Linked DNA regions of Homo sapiens. The protein of the gene in region 2 interacts with the protein of the main gene of each other region in a pairwise test. Each region holds a gene or a part of one and is shown on either strand. Other genes may lie near its edges. The genes, in order: MT1A and GPR50.

The links.
Region 1: the proteins of GPR50 (region 2) and MT1A interact in binary tests that used the Homo sapiens proteins (3 or more experiments, as listed by UniProt).

Annotation. Positions count from the first base shown.
Region 1 is NC_000016.10:56,636,779-56,640,378, reverse strand, and holds MT1A (metallothionein-1A), read right to left. Parts: upstream 1,714-3,600; 5' UTR 1,641-1,713; coding exon 1,613-1,640; intron 1,116-1,612; coding exon 1,050-1,115; intron 521-1,049; coding exon 429-520; 3' UTR 292-428; downstream 1-291. UniProt on the Homo sapiens protein: Metallothioneins have a high content of cysteine residues that bind various heavy metals; these proteins are transcriptionally regulated by both heavy metals and glucocorticoids.
Region 2 is NC_000023.11:151,174,389-151,178,499, forward strand, and holds the start of GPR50 (melatonin-related receptor), read left to right. Parts: upstream 1-2,195; 5' UTR 2,196-2,333; coding exon 2,334-2,520; intron 2,521-2,988; exon of another isoform or gene 2,989-3,448; intron 3,449-4,111. UniProt on the Homo sapiens protein: G protein-coupled receptor that plays a role in numerous physiological processes including regulation of energy metabolism, neurite outgrowth or cell migration.

The DNA.
Region 1 (3,600 bases), on a different chromosome or scaffold from region 2:
ATGGATTTGGTGTTTTTTTTTTGTCATACTAATAGATTTTATCTTACCAAAGCTTAAGTCTGTGACAGATTCCTGTGGCATTATATCATCTGTCATCACGCTCTTACATTTTTATTTAAGAAACTGACCTGAGGCAGGTGCCTGATTTGCCTTAAGGCACTCAGTGTGTAAGATAATAGGACAAGGTCCCAGCACCCAGGTCTCTGGACTCTCAATGCAATCCACCATCCCAGCTCTGTTGGGTATGGGGTCCCTTATTTCCAAGGCACACAAAGAAAACCAGAGCCAGCATTAAGTCAGCAACTTTTATTATCATTCACATATTTCATTAAAAAAAATACAGTAAATGGGTCAGGGTTGTATGGAAAAAAAATTCCAAGTTTGTGCAGGTCACTCTTTCTATATCTTCGAGCAGGGCTGTCCGGACATCAGGCACAGCAGCTGCACTTCTCTGATGCCCCTTTGCAGATGCAGCCCTGGGCACACTTGGCACAGCTCATGGGGCAGCAGGAGCAGCAGCCTGGGGAAGAAGGGAGAGTGAGAGGTCAGACCAGACTTGACCGGGGACTTCCCTGCCCCCAGAGAAGCCTGGCCCAAGCTCTGTCCCCAGCCCCAGAGGACACTTAGTTCAGGATGGCATGCACTGTCGGAGATGGGAGATAAGTGGTGGATCTTTCGAGTGAGGGTCTTCTGTGAAAAGCTTATCTCCATCTGAGCCCCAGACCTGGCAGAAGGCTGGAAAGGCAGTGACTGGGGTTATGAAGGACAAAGGAAGGCTGGCTCCCCAGAACCACACACTTAGGGGAGGAAAGTCCTTAGGTGTCATGTCTGTGCTTGGCAGGCTGGTGCACTCTTGGCCTCAGTTTGTCTATTTTAAGAACGAAACTTGGGAATCCATCACGTCTAAAGATCTGGCTCTGATCCTGAATCAGTTGCTGGGGAAGGGGATGTGGGAAATGGATCATTGGCCTACTCCTCCATGCCCAGCTCTGGTTTCCTGCCTCTGACTTGGCTCAGCCCCAGATTCCTGGAGATGGCCCCACACTCACTCTTCTTGCAGGAGGTGCATTTGCACTCTTTGCATTTGCAGGAGCCAGTGCAGGTGCAGGAGCCACCTGCAAGGAAGAGAAAAAGGCAGTGAATTTTATACAGAAGATAACAGCAGTTGGTCAACAAATGCTGCCAGCTGAGTGCATTGCCAGGCCTGATAGATAGCTCCTGTCCAACTCAGGGCACCATGAAGCCTAATCTTACTTCTATCTGTAGAGGCTAGGATGGGCTTTATGTCCTTAATCCCGAAAAACCAATAACTCCTGTCTCCCATCCACCCCAGGAACTGCGCAGAGTACTGGGGCTCAGCCTAGCAGTCCCCGACTACCTGGGTGACATGGAGCAGGAGAATTATGAGCCTGAGTCCTCTCGCCTCTGAAATGGGAGGCATTAGAATAGGAATGTTCTAGGGATGATGAAGGCGCTGAGTGGAAAAGCACTAGATCAATGAAATAAATGACTCCACTTAGCTAGAACTCAAAAAACACCTCTACTCCTAGGGACATCTATCCTGTGGCGGGGAAATAGGTATCCTAAGGACCAGAAACCTAGCATCCCTTACCAGTGGCGCAGGAGCAGTTGGGGTCCATTTCGAGCCGCGGTGAGGTTGGAGATCCCAAGCAAGAAGTTGAGAGGCTATAAGGCGCACGTGGAAGGCTTGGTAGGGCCCAGCAGCCAGCGGCTGCTTTTATGGTCAGGGGAAAGAGGGCCGGACGCAAAGGACCCGCCCTGCGCCTGCGCCCGCCCCGCTGAGTCCGCCCAGCCGAGTCCGCCCCGCCCGAGGTGATGACCTGGACTGGGCTTTGCGCAGCAGAAAGGCAAGGCGCACAGTCCACTGAGCTCCCCTGGGTGCGGACCACGGGACCACCCCCTCCCCGCTTTGGGGCCGCTAACGCGGGAGTGAGTTTACGCCCGGGGTACGGGGCGTCCCCGAGGTCCCGGTCGCCTTTCCCAGTTTCCCCGAAGTTGCCTTCCACCCTAGTCCCCGCGCGTTCCGGGAACCCAGCCTTGGCGTTTCGGTCGCCTCCACCCCACCCCTCTCACGGTTTTCAGCTCGGCCTGTCCCGAAGTCTGAGTGCAGCCACAGCCTCCTGCTCCTGTCCCCGGATCGGCGTAGTGCAGAGCGTGGAGCGTGCGGTAGCGAGCGAGTTGTGTGCAGAGCAACCGCCACCGATGTGATTTTCGTTTCTCCTCGCTGTCGCCTTGCCTGTCCCTGTCCACACCTAGGTCCCTCGGACCCACTACTCCGTACACAGTAACACGGGAACACGGGTCGGCCTCTCACTCTCGTCCATTCTCCTCGCCTGAGAGGATGTGGGGGCACATTTGTCCAGGTCCTCCTTTGCAAATAAATCTCCGTGCTCCCCACAGCCTAGCCGGCCACCCCACTACCGTCTGGCAGTTCTGGACATGTGGGATATCCCCAAAAAGGAGATGACTTCATGTGATGTGCTGACCCTGCTTTAAACTAAAAAGCAAGATGGGGGAGGTGGCGGGAAGCTGTAGTCCAAGCTACTTAGGAGGCTGAGGCGGGAGCATCACTTAAGCCCAGGACTTCCAGTCCTGCCTAGTCCACATAGCAAGTCAACTTCTCTAAAAAAATAAAATTAAAAAGCAAGACATCCAGTTATTTCCCTAAAGTACACCTGACTAAGGCATAACATTGAGTCTATACCAGTCCCTTTCTAATCACTTTCATTCACAGCCACCACTGGAGTGACCTACCAGAGGATGAACACACTCTTTACCATGGGATGGCACCAAGTCATTCTTTAGGGATGTGTCCTCATGACCCCAAAAGCTCCCTCTAGGCCCCACCTGCAATAGTGGAGGACACATTTCAACATGAGATTTGGCAGTGACAAAATATCTAAATCATAGCACACATGTAGGATTCAAGAAACTAAGAAGTTGGGTTCCAGCACTATAGCCACTTTTAAGCCTAAAATCCAATGTGGATCTCAAGTTGTGGAGGAAAATCAGAAAATAAAAATAAGGAATGAAGTTTCTGTGCCACGTTTGGCATGAGACTGGAAGCGATCATGTATGGTCCCCACCCATATGGTGTGGCAAAGTGCAGTACCATTTCACAGAAGTGTGAACTCAGTGAGGTAACCTGACTGGCCTGAAGGTGTTCACATTATTAGTGACTCACATTTCCATCCAGAGCCTGGTCTCTAAGCTTGCGGTTTAACCTCCACCCCAGTCCATTTTTTCCAAGGCACACAAAGAAGAACAGAGTAAGATTCAAGTCAAAATTGTTTTATTGTCACTCACATATTTAATATAAAAAGAAATGCAGCAAATGGCTCAGTATTGTATAAAAAAAAAATCCAGGTTGTGCAGGTTGTTCTATTAACATCTGGGAGAAGAGCTGTTCCCACATCAGGCACAGCAGCTGCACTTCTCCGACGTCCCTTTGCAGATGCAGCCGTGGGCACACTTGGCTCAGCCCATGGGGCAGCAGAAGCAGCAGCCTGGGGAAGAAGGGGAGAGTGAGAGGTGGCAGCAGACTTCACCAGGCACCTCCCTGCCCTAATAGCAAGCGTG
Region 2 (4,111 bases):
CACATCCGCGGGGAATTCCCGGGGGCTCTAGCCACCTCATCTCAGAAGTGCAGTACACTGGAGTGTAGCAATGCCTGCAAGGTTTGCAAGCTCTCCTTACAGGTTTGTTTGGGGCAGGGGGAGTCTAGTGTCTTAAGTCACTAGAAGGTGTGTTTCGTTTTTTCCTTCAAATGTATTTTGTTTACTTATTTGAATTCAAAATCGCCCCTTCCCACAAGTGAAGGGATCCAAACTCTCGGGGAACCAGCAAGAACAGCCTGATGTGCATCCTACAAAATACTCCACTGCGCGGACGGGCTTTTGACTGACAGCCTCTTTACAGGGCGCACAGCTGTGTGGGGAGGACAGCGGAGCCCCTTCACTGTCTGCACTTACGGAAAAAAATGCGAGCGCGCGCGGCCGGGAGTTCCAGCCAGCGAGGGGCAGTGAGATAATGAATGTGAAAAGCCTCCAGGCGGGAGATTGTAATTCGCGCCGGATTCAGTTCACAGACGCGAAAGCCGCAGGATTGGGGTGGGGGCTTCATTTTCAAACAAGGAGACACATTTCCAGTTTAGGCTTTATAGCTAGAGACAGTGTGTGCAATCTTGGTTTTCAACAGTGTCTGTTTTTTTCGTTAAAGGTATCTGAATGTTGAAGTTCGTCGCGTAACAGGCCCCTACTACCTACCCCGCCTTGTCCGTCCCCCCACCCACCCCGGGGCAAGAGGGCTGCTGTGTCCAGACGATGGCGCTCCCGGCCAGTGCAACCCCTCTCCCCTACTGTGGCAAGAAGACTAGTCTGGAACAAGTTTCAAGGTGTTTACTGAGATTTTGAAAGGCTTCTCGACAGGAGCCGTAACTTTTAGTAGCCGGCAGAAATCCATTCCCGTGACCAAGGTTATTGAGGGAACGAGTGTCCGAATCACGCCCCTTTAGTTTTGCCCGAATATTCGAATTTTCCGTGGTCCCCGCGGAGCGAGATCCTGGGCGCACCGCAGGGGAACTGTGACGCACGGGGACAGAGATCCGCGGTGTGGAGGGCGAGGGGGGAGGCCTGAGAGGGATGGGGTCGAAACGAGAACCCCAGAAGGGCATGGGAAAGGAGAAAGACCGAGAGGAATCCTGACTGAGGCAGGGATCGCCGGTCAGCCAGAGGCTTCTTGGTTTAGCCGCGTGACACCTCCGCACCTTTCCCGCGGCTGCGGCGCAGCTCCTTCAGCCTTCCTGACTGCCCCGTGCCGCTCAGTAGAGAATGCCGAGCATCCCGAGAGGGAGAGGCGTCAGAGCCTCTCGTCCTGAGTTTCCTTGAGAAGCGGGGACCCAAGAGAAGAGCTTTATTGCCTGTTTTACTTTTTCCCAAAGCGTCCCTTGGCTTCCGCCGCCTGGCTGCCGGCAGCTGGAAAGGAGACGAGCTCCCGCTCCCGTTCGCCCCCAAACTGAGGACCGAGTGGCCACCAATGCCTTCCCTAGGTCCCAGGGTGCAGACCCGCTCCCCACTTCCAGAGTCGGGCGCAGGGTACATCTCTTTATGGAGAGTGCAAGACCTGGACCGGACTGAGCGGCTACTCGCAGCTGCCGCTAAGGGAGCCAAGAGGCTCCTGGCGAGAAAGGGAGCGGGGTTAAGTTCCCTAGGGATTAGGGACCCAGATTGGGGGTGGGAGCTCCCAGCAGTAGTCCCCTGTTCCCCGCGGGACACAGAAGGCTCTAGACAGGCAAGGGCATGGGGCGTGGGATGGACCTCACAAGGATACTTGCAGAGGCAAGCATCTAGCGTTCAAGGGGCCACCGGCTATCCCCTATACCCTGCTGGGGGCTGTGGACTGGCTTGGTCTAGCACTGGATCCTATGAAAGACTCTGTGCTCCGGCTCTGCAATCTACATCTCTTTGCCAGGTGTTTGCACTGGAGGAGAGAGGGAGAAGAACTTGCTAGAAACGAATGCACAGGGGCTGGTGGAGGGGGTGTGGGGTGGACTCCGAGCTAGTCATGATGCTTGCAAGGTACCTGGGAGATTGAGAGGCAGGGCAGGCTGGCTAGAGAGGAAGTACATACAAGGCAGTCGGAAGCAAGATGACACCTCAATGTGGATTTGTCCAATAAGAGGGGGTAGCCAAGGGGGGGGTATTCAGGGAGGTCTGATTGGTCGGGGGGAGGGATTTGGGGTGGGGCTAGCCGCCTCTTGAGGCTTTAAAAGCTCATCGGAGAGGGGCGGGATGCTGTCATTTGCTCTCTGACTCTCAGAGAGGGAGGCACGCTTTCCTGGAGCTCCTGGTGACAGAACAGGTGTTTGCTGTCTGGACCTGGCTGCTGATCCTGAGCCTGCTGGGAGATCTTAACGATCCCCAGGAGCAACATGGGGCCCACCCTAGCGGTTCCCACCCCCTATGGCTGTATTGGCTGTAAGCTACCCCAGCCAGAATACCCACCGGCTCTAATCATCTTTATGTTCTGCGCGATGGTTATCACCATCGTTGTAGACCTAATCGGCAACTCCATGGTCATTTTGGCTGTGACGAAGAACAAGAAGCTCCGGAATTCTGGTAAGCCACCCCTTCTTCTCCCTACCCAGTGTGCAGAGACTTGCAACCCCTAGGGCGTTAGTTTTTGAGCTCCCCGAATAGAGAATCTATGGACAGTGCCCTCATATTGAACATCCCTGCTCCCAAATTCCCCGCAAGCCTGGGGGTGGTAGTATTCTGTCCCGGCCCTCTAAACGTGGAGGTTCTCAAGGCCGAGAGAGCACAGAGAATTAGCTTTGGGCATCCAAGTACAAAGCGTTCCCGTGGTGCGCGGCAGCCCGAGGATCCCTGTCCCGTCGGGGCCTGATGCGGAGGGAGCCGGCACCCGAGCGGGAGAGTCAGGCGATTCGCCCGGGGACAGCAAGCCGAGCCGGACGCCGCAAGGGCGGCCGCGCTGAGGCAGCGCGGACCGAACTGACGCGGAGGGAGCAGCGGGGCTGCGACCTGCTCTGTGAAAGTTAAGTTCGCGGCGGCCGCGGCGGCCCTTACCAGAGCGCAACGCAGTGGCCTCTCCCTAGCCGGGCCAAGAGCCCGCTCGCCGCGGCCCTGGGGCTCCAGGACGGCTCCCGGGCAGATCCCGGGCGGCGGAGCACAGACCCCCGCGCCCGAGAATCGAGCAGGGAGGTCTGAGCCCGCCGGAGCCGAGCTCCGTCCGCCCGTCCCAGGGCGAACGGCAGAGAGAGGCAAGCGGCGGGTCGGGCACAGCAGGCGGTGGCAGCGACGGCGGCGGCAGCGGAGATCCCAAGGTCCGTAAGCGGGGAACTGGGGGGTCGCAGGGCGGGCCGGCCAAGAGGCTTGGGAGCTGGGCGTTGCTGGGGGTGGAGGGATAGAAGGCAGCAAAACCGAGTAGGGATTGGCGGGAGGGCGACGGGAGAGCTCAGAGGCGGCGATGGGGGACTCAGAGAGGCTGCAAAGGGCTGGGGTCTGGGAGCCGCAGGCGGGACTTCCCCCGCTGCTAGCCACTGCCGAGCGGGAGGAGGCCGGGGGCCGGGGGCCGGCGGCGAGCAGGGCAGGAGGGAAGCGTGGGAGGATGCCGGGCGCTGCGACCTGTGCTGGGGGTGGGGGCGGCAGACACTGCAGAGCAGCTAGTCCGGCTTACAGGTTGGGCGGGAGAGGGCTCTGGAAGGGAGGGGAAGGGGCAAAGGCGCCCAAACTCCGAGTTCAGGCCGGGGGAGGGAGGGGCGGCGCCTGGAATTTCCACCGCCAGATTCTCGATCGGCTGGGGCTAGGAGTGGGGACCGAAGGGGGTCTGAGAGGGTGGGGAGACCAGCTGGATTCTCCCGGGCAGGGCGTGGGGGAGAGGTGGCGGCCGGGGTCTGGGGGATTACTTTGCTTGGGCAAGGAGTCACGAACACTGAACAAGTTTAAAAACGCACTGACTGGCACACAGTCATTAAAAGTTTTCTTACAAAGTCTGGTGGGTGTCTCCGATTTCTCCTTCGTCTCCTGGAATCGTGGGGCCATACACTAGGTCTTCACCTTCACCCCCGCGGTGCGGTCCCGAGGTGCAAACCCACGGAATCCTGGGGGCGACCTGCGAAGCCCATTTTATTCCCTTTAGATTTCTTTTCTTTCTTTTTCTCCTTCTCCTTCCTTCCTTCTATAATTCAAA